3 separate regions of the Homo sapiens genome follow, and all the other regions are linked to region 2. The links come from fine-mapping of genetic effects on gene expression. A gene starts in region 2. Each other region holds a variant in brackets. All regions are shown on one strand. Distances are from middle to middle.

Region 1 (2,766 bases), 50 kb before region 2:
AAAAAATCAACCCTAATTTTAAAGCATACATCAAAACTTCTGGAGAATTTTGCTCTTGTTTTGTTGATGTTGCACTTTTTAAAATACTACAAAAAGATGCCAGGAAAAGTAGCATTGGTTAAGGGATGAATAAATTTGTATTTACATGGCTTTCATAGCATAAGTCACCTTTATTTCTAGATAATTCTTTAGGGAATTACACCTCGAATTTATTTGGAGTGAGGGAGGATACATCTTGATTCCCATTTTTAGAACATAACAATAATAGTGTCCAGCTTCAAAGTACTTTACAGATATTAATCTGAGCCCCTTCCCCAAAAAGGCGTTTAAATGTTTTTCATTTCTTTTCATAACTGAGAAAATTACATCAAATTAATTGGACCATTATAATTTATGTGGACACCGTGGACTAAAAAGGCAACAACATCCTTCTTTCACTCCACTTCCCAAAAACTCCACACTCAGAAATCTCAATCAACAAAAAACACATACACTACTAGGGACCAAGAAAAGGACCTACTATTTTTAATAGGTCAGGATTATACAATATCTAATTTGGGTAATTTATAGAAATACTGCTAAACACTACTCTTGCCTATCTGCCTGGGAAAAACCTACAAAAGAAAATCTGAAAGAAAAAGACTAAAATTACAATATAGCAGAAATTCGTCCTTTTGATTAAGCTATACATATATTGCTTTTCCCTGACTTCTGCTGCTGCTCCTTATCAAACCCCCAGAAGTAACAAGTGAAACACAACAAAGCAGAAGGAAGAACAGAAAAGCAAGGGGTTGAAGCGTAACTCAGGGTGGAGAGTTCAGATGCACCACACCCTAGCCATCTTTCTTCATTGGGATTCATGAGCTTCACTATTTTCCATTAAGTTATGATTCAAGGACTATGTTTTTTTGTTTTTGTTTTTTGAATCATAACATTAGTGACAGATGCATGGCAGGAACTTCCACATCAAAAAGTTCTCTGAGTGTAATAAATGTTTTGATACAGGGCATCTAATCCAGACCAAGAGGTCAGGCAAGGGGAGCAAGAAGTAGGTAAAGTGTCCCTGGCCCTTATACACAGGTGTGAAAAGAACATGATGAATTTGGAGAAAAGTTCAATAGGAGCAGAGCATCGAAGAAGTTAAGAGAGAAGCTTGGGTAGAAGCCAAAACATGAAGGGTCTGGTATGTAAGATTTACCACTTGGGCCTGGTGACAGAGCGAGACTCCATCAAAAAAAAAAAAAAAAAAAAAA[AG/G]TTCCCACAGCTCACCACTACAGAAGCAGAGAAGACAACTATGCAGAAAACAGAGTTGGTGGCAGTCAGGAGGAATGCAGCTGGTCTGTTGGACCCCTACTGGATTGGGGGAGTGCAGAAGACACTGGTGAAATCCTCTATACTGAAGACCTGCAGTTGGGAGCAGGGGGAGTCCATGGGTCTGCTGATTTTTTTTCCCTATTTAGTACTAATGTGTGTGTGATCTTTGTTTTACAAAATACCTTTTGGGTTTTCTGCATATTTTAAAATTTTTGTACAGTTTTGAATTCTATAGATCGTCTTGGAAGGATACTGTGTGATGAGCCAGGCACACAGTAATTGGAGACTTTTAATGTGTGTAATATTTCATAGATTGCATGCTATTAATCGTCTGTGAGGGTAGTATTTTTTGTTTTATTATAAGTTTCCCTCATTTTTTTATAAATTAAAAGATGGTTGGTATTAGGAATTTCAAATGAATGCAGAAAATCTTACATGCTCTGTACTATTAATATTATAACAAAGACGATCCAAGTCCAAAATCTGACCAATAAAGCAACCATTTTATCAAGATAGAGGATTCTACCATGGGAGAGGGGATTCTTCCCTCCTGAAGTTTGTGTGTCCAATCCCCTTAAAAAAAATGAATAGTTGTCTTTTCTTGTCATATTAATACTCGAAAGTCCATGGTGATATTAATGAAAGTACACTTTATTGTTGCCTTTGACCTTATGGCCAAGGCAATAAATCAGAAACAAAAATAGTGCCAATGTGTCAAAATCTACAACTGAGAGATTCAGCCTCCCATCTGGAATAAATGCGAATCTTCTAAGCTAAAAAAAAAAAAAAAAAAAAAAAAAGGTTAACACTTGGATTTTATTCTGAAACCACCAAGGAGGTTTTGAACAAAAGACAGACTGATTTGTGCTTCAGAAGGATCGCTTTTATAGAGGTAAAGAATGGACTGGAGGGATGGCAGTTCAGAGTCAAGAAGGCTAGTTAAGGGGCTGTCAAGAAGGTGGTGGGAGCGGTGGCTCATGCCTGCAATCCCAGCACTTCAGGAGGCAGAGGCAGGCAGATCACTTGAGGTCAGGAGTTTGAGAACAGCCTGGCCAACATGGTGAAACCTCATCTCTACCAAAAAATACAAAAATTAGCCAGGCATGGTGGCAAGTGCCTGTAGTCCCAGCTACTCGGGAGGCTGAGGCAGGAGAATCGCTTGAACCTGGGAGGTGAAGGTTGCAGTGAGCTGAGATGGTGCCACTGCACTCCCGCCTGGGTGACAGAGCGAGACTCCATCTCAACAACAACAACAACAACAACAACAACAACAACAAAAGTGGGGGTGGGGCAGCATGTGAGGAGGCACTGAATTCAGGCAGTGCAAGAGTGAATCTGATCAACTTACAGTTCTCCTTAGAACCATCAGTGGTTCCCTTTCACTTTCAGGATTCAAGCCCCTGTTCACTTTACTGTTGTGCAAAGCCCTTGCTAATACAGCTCCTGTTTACC
Region 2 (2,766 bases):
CATCACACTTTCATTTAACCTTCTGTTTGTCCTCTGCAAACAGGTTATCTAAAATGTTGCTTTTTAATTTTGAAGTATTATTTGTATTCAAGTATCTTTATTCTATTTCATTGCCTGCTATTTTTACATTCTAGTCCCCATTTGTTGCCATGAAGATAGAAATCACAATTTCTACCCAACACTGTAGTGTTGCATCCTGCACACAAACGTACTTTAGTGAGCTCATATGTTTATGTTTATGTATCATCTATGGCTTTTCTTGGTAAGACAATGGCAGAGTTAAATAGTATCACAGAGACCATATGACCTGCAAAACCTATTAATAAAATATTATCTGGCTGTATGAGCACATTTTCATACTGCTATAAAGAATTGCCTGAGACTGGGTAATTTATAAAGGAAAGGGGTTTAATTGACTCACAGTTCAGCGTCGCTGGGGAGGCCTCAGGAAACTTACAATCATGACGGAAGGTGAAGGGGAAGCAGGACACCTTCTTCGTTAAGGAGAAGTGCCCAGTGGAGGGGAAAGAGCCCCTTACAAAACCATCAGATAGCTTGAGAACTCACTAGCATGGGGGTAAACGGCCCCCATGATTCCATTACCTTCATCTGGTCTCTCTCTTGACACGTGGGGATTATGGAACTGCCCCCATGATTCAATTACCTTCACCTGGTTTCTCTCTTGACACGTGGGGATTATGGGGATTACAATTCAAGATGGGATGTGGTCGGGGACTCAGAGCCTAACCATATCACTGGCCCTTTACTAAAAAATTTACTAATTCTGTCTCCCGCTTTAAATTATGAAAGGGACAATTACAGTACTGGTGGAAAAACATTGCTGGAGTGCTTTAGTGAAACCAATTATTTAGGTAGCAGCATGCCACGGTTATGGCTTAGTTGACAGTTACTCTACTTGTGAACTTCATAGGTTGGTGTACGATTCTTAACATGAATATTAAGTAGAGGCATTGAATGAAGATATTTTTCCAATTAAAATCTTGCTTTGCTTCTTCAGGACTTTATAAACCAGACCAGCTGGCTGTGGCACAGATACGAAAGACTTTGAGACCCTGAAGGCACCTTGCAGAACATCCTCAGGCTTCCTCATTTAACAGGAAAAAACCTGAGGCCCAGGGAGGCATCTCAGCTAAAAATACTACTATACATTTAAAAGGAGGTTTCTTCCGGTCGCAGTTGCCTTCACGTTTTCAAATCTTCTCTTTAAAAAGCAAAAGCAGGGCACAACCAGGCCAAGCGCCAGAAAACTCGGAATTGGCTTTATTTCCTTTTTTTCTAGTTGGGCTCGGTTATGATTTTCGGTAACGTACACAAATGCTGTCCTTGTCCATAAACAAACGCTTAAAAAAAAATGTTTACCCGAGAAACAAGGATAGACACGAAGCTGCCCTCCCTGCCCCGTTCCTCACCCTCTCCAATAGCTATAGGCGCTGCCCGCCGTCCCTAACCCGGACCAATCGGCAGCCTGCTGCGGGCCTGACGGGAGGGGTGGGGCCGCCGTTGCCAGAGAAGCCACTAGCCGGTTACTAGCTGCGCTTTTGTTCCACTTGAGCGGGCACTCTTCTGCGGCAAGCAGGTCTAGGAATTCGCCTGGTTCCCACCTCGCGTCCCTTGCCTTCCTTCCTAGTCTACCCACTGTAGTGCCCCCTGCGTCCCGCTCCCTCCTAGCCGACTCAGAGCACAAGAAGGATTGCCACGGTTTCCATTGCAGCAGCCGTGGCGCCTCTGACCCTTTTTTTATATCGCGGCGACGGCGGGCTGTCGTCACGACGACGTGCGGACGCAGCGGCGGGGGCGTAAGTACGCCTTTTGGGTTGGGGGCGACTTTGTGGGGAGCCTAGCTGCTGCTGGGCGTTTACCGCGGGAGCCCTTAGCGGTCTGGAGGTGAGGGCAGTGGTGGGTCCCGGAAGTAAAAGGCCCTCGCGCCCACCCAGCCCCCTCCGCGCAAACCCTCCACCTCCCTCAGGCTGACTACCTGGCCTGGGAAAAGGGCGGCGAGACTCACTCTTAGGAAGGGTGTGGTCCCCGGGACATCAGGGCAAATGTTAGCGTGAGGTGGGCTTGTGCAGAACGAAGTCCTGACCGGGCCGTTCCTGGATATGGTTGCATTTCTTTCAGAAATAGTGACCTCTTAATCATTGGGCTGGTTTTTAATCGCCCATCATGTGATATATCAGATTGTAGGAAGCCCTGGGGGCTTCGTAAGTGAGGTATATTACAGGAATCCTCAGGAAATAATTCCTTCTCCAGGATTCCTCTAGGTTCCAGCCCCTATAGGCGACCCCTGTAGTGCGGGATTGACCTAGGGTCGTGGAGAGTGCTAAAGGCCGACTTGTGTTCAGTCCCAGCTCTGCCACTGAACCCGCTGTGTGGCCTTGTCTAGGTCACTGAACCTTCCTGGATTCCTTACTGATAACTGTAACAGTAATCATCACTTTGGGGTGGTTGTAATACGAGATTAAGTAAACGCAGGGCCATTAAGGTGGCACCGAATGTAGGTGGTTAGTGAGTGGTGGTGCTTGTTGTTTACTGAGAATAACCATACTGGGGCTGCTGTTGGGGATAAAATCTATTTCGAAGACAGTTTCCTCATCACGCAACGCATAGTACGGTTTCAAGTGTTTTTGAATGAATGAGGTTCTTGGAGTTTTAAGTGCAACTGAGTTAAGGTTAAAGAAACAAACCGGGCCGGGCGCGGTGGCTCACGCCTGTAATCCCAGCACTTTGGGAGGCCGAGGCGGGCGG
Region 3 (2,766 bases), 43 kb before region 2:
TAAACATATGTTTTAGCTCCATGATTATGCATGCTCACACTGGCTTAACACAGAATTATAAAATATTATTTTTTGGATGTATATAGTTGGAACCTTTAGGGAAAATGTAAAAAAAAAATCAGCAAAATTTTGACAGATTCTAGCAATATGTGTGTGCGTTTTTTAAAAACAATTTCTGTATTTTCAATTAAGCCATATAATGAGTTTCATAGTTGTGTCTTGGATAGTCAAGTTAAAGGGACATGCTCCAAAAGATAAGTTTTTAAAAGTTTATTACCTGTAAGACGTGATAATTCCTCCAGATTTGGGGCTGCAGATGAACCCAGGGCAATGGAGTGAATTGTTGAACCACTGCTGAGCACAGTGGGTAAGCAATTGCCAAGAAGCTTATCATCTCCGCTGGTCACTAATATCATCACAGAGCCATAAGCTTTTCCATTCAGTTTTTCAACCACCTGAACATAGAGAATTAGTCACTTGGAAGGAAGTGTAGTTCAAATTGTTTTATTGAGCAAAAGAATTCACTCTCATCCAAATTCCCACTGTAGCTCCTACACCCCACGCCCATCTCCACTCAAGTTTTACCTCACCCCATCACAGCACTTGTCACCCTACATTCCACTGCCAGTTTGCTTGTGAGCAGGGACTTTTCCTGCTTGAATCATCAAGGTGTCCCCATAGTTTAGAACTGTATCCATCATAGAAGATGTGGAATACATTATTGTGTGAGAGGCTTGCCTCTGAGATCCAGTAAGTGACCACCTAGAGCAGTGGTTCTCAGTCTTGGCTACACGTTAGAATCAAATGTGGAGACTTAAACAATTTTAATGGTCAGGTCACATCCCAGATCAATTAAATCAGAATCTCTGGGGGTTAGACTCACACATTAGTATTTTTTTTAATCCCCAGGTGATTTCAATAGATAGCCAAGGTTTAGACCATGGGCAGCAAAAACCATAGCTGATGTGTCTTGTTTGCTATCAGATAAGCATCCCAGATGCTGAATGCAAACTTGTGTTGATTTAAATAAACTCTGTCATTCCTGAAACACACTTCTGGCCTTAATTGTGATGTGTTGCCTTAATTGGTTCTGATGTGCGTGAAGTCTAGAATGACTATAGACAGAAGCTAGACATGCTGATTTTGACAAGAAAATTGAAAGGTAAAAATGGCCCAGAATGGCTAGGAACAGTTTAGAAAATGCCCAGATGTTGTTTAGGTCCTCTAGTCTC[G/A]TCCATTGTATTCATTTATTTTCTTATTCTGTCAACAAGTATTTATTAAGCAACTATTGTATGCTATGTACTTTGCTAGGCACAAGGAGTACAATGGTGAATAAGGCATGGTTCCTGACTTGAAAGATAATCCATCATTACTTTCATAGTTGAGGCTGTTATGACCACCCTGTAACAAACTGCCCATCATCAGAGGAAACCTCGTATACTAAAAGAGGGAAAGGAAAATGATGGTGATCCAAGGCTTAGGATGCTCTACTGTACCTCAAATCCTTTCTTAAGCCCTGAACAAATGCTGATGTCTGTTTTAGCTGATACAGTGGTGGGCAGATATGAAACCAGCAACTTTCGATCATCATTGCTGTTAATTTGGTGTAGCTGGGCTCTGATCTCTCCTTTGCTGTCGAAACTGGCAATGCCCACGAAGGTATGAATTTCAACAATCTGCATCAAATAAAATTCTGCGGCTTGTTGTAGTTGAAGGAGTCTGTCAGCCTATGTCCCAAAAAGGAAAAAAGAAAATGGCAACATTTGGTTAGTAGACAAAAGTATGATGAAGTAACTCAATTAGCAAACATCTCTGCTAATTCTTTAGAGATGTTGGATCATAATTTTTTGAGCTTTAAAGAGTAACATAATATTAGAATATTGTTTGATTAATTGCAGGCTCAAAAATGCATGCTTTCAGGGAAGAGGGAGTGGCTTGGGGCTCTGCCTCCAACAAGATGCTCATAATTTACCACTCTCTGTTTCTCATCATCCCCACTATTTCACTCCAACTTAGAATTCAAAGATTCATGAACCCAGCTGAGACGAAATTTGTAACTGCTGTTTTAAAAATGCAGTCCAGGTAAAAGAAAACATTGCAAAGAGACCTTTGCTAGAGAGGAGTGGCAGTCAGAGGACCCATGATCTGCCCCGGCACTACCCTCTGCTATTGTGGTCACCTTAGGCTGGGTACTTCATCTGTAGAGTGAGGATGATAGCTTTCTTGTTTATGAAATTAGAATTGCCATGAGGATCAAGTGAGATACATATATGGCAGTACAGTTATACCATGAAGGGCTAACCAGGTGTAAAGTAATATTAGTGACCAGTTTTGGGCAGGTGATGCTATTGATTAATTCACTAGGGTAACTTGTTTTGAAAGCTCTGGGAAAAGAGAGGAGCAGCAAGCTGAGCTTCAATGACCACCCACTCAGGGATGACACTGATCTCTATCTCCAACTCAAGCATCTTCCTGGGTGGATCTAGACCTGCATTTCACACTTCTTAGGACACAGGTTTCTGGCTTAACTAGTTGGGAGTGATGATTTGACAACCATGAAGATGGCAACTCTACACTTTGAATTCTAATACTGTTTCTCTTACAATATTGGGAAGTAAGTTGTAAAGGGGGTAAAACAAGGACTTAGAACTCTGCCTTCAACTTTTGCTAATTATGTGATCATAGTAAAATTACTTTTTTTTTTTAGCTTCAGTTTTCTCATCTGCAAAATGGATACTGAGTAAGCACTCACAATAGAATAGCTAT

Alleles and levels. Alleles are on the strand shown, and positions count from the first base shown. SD is a standard deviation of normalised expression in the study named.
For the expression in CD4 T cells of the gene that starts at base 1,527 in region 2, G is the low allele of the variant in region 1 and AG is the other (moderate effect, 0.60 SD a copy in Kasela 2017).
With allele A in place of G in region 3, the expression in monocytes after LPS of the gene that starts at base 1,527 in region 2 is lower (small effect, 0.37 SD a copy in Fairfax 2014).

What was found.
Region 1: its variant is fine-mapped to the expression of ODF2L in CD4 T cells (Kasela 2017, PIP 0.95).
Region 3: its variant is fine-mapped to the expression of ODF2L in monocytes after LPS (Fairfax 2014, PIP 0.95).

Annotation. Positions count from the first base shown.
Region 1 is chr1:86,444,705-86,447,470 of GRCh38, reverse strand. The region is part of intron 10 of CLCA2 (chloride channel accessory 2); the gene reads right to left. Among named protein-coding and RNA genes, the nearest start is that of CLCA2, 22 kb to the right of the region's middle. The variant AG/G (reference allele first, on the strand shown) is at 1,254.
Region 2 is chr1:86,395,084-86,397,849 of GRCh38, reverse strand. It overlaps ODF2L (outer dense fiber of sperm tails 2 like), which reads left to right and starts at 1,527. Exons shown (of 17, transcript NM_001366781.1): 1 at 1,527-1,817. RefSeq lists an enhancer at 1,553-1,602.
Region 3 is chr1:86,437,837-86,440,602 of GRCh38, reverse strand. It overlaps CLCA2 (chloride channel accessory 2), which reads right to left. Exons shown (of 14, transcript NM_006536.7): 7 at 1,497-1,727; 8 at 278-455. Among named protein-coding and RNA genes, the nearest start is that of CLCA2, 15 kb to the right of the region's middle. The variant G/A (reference allele first, on the strand shown) is at 1,233.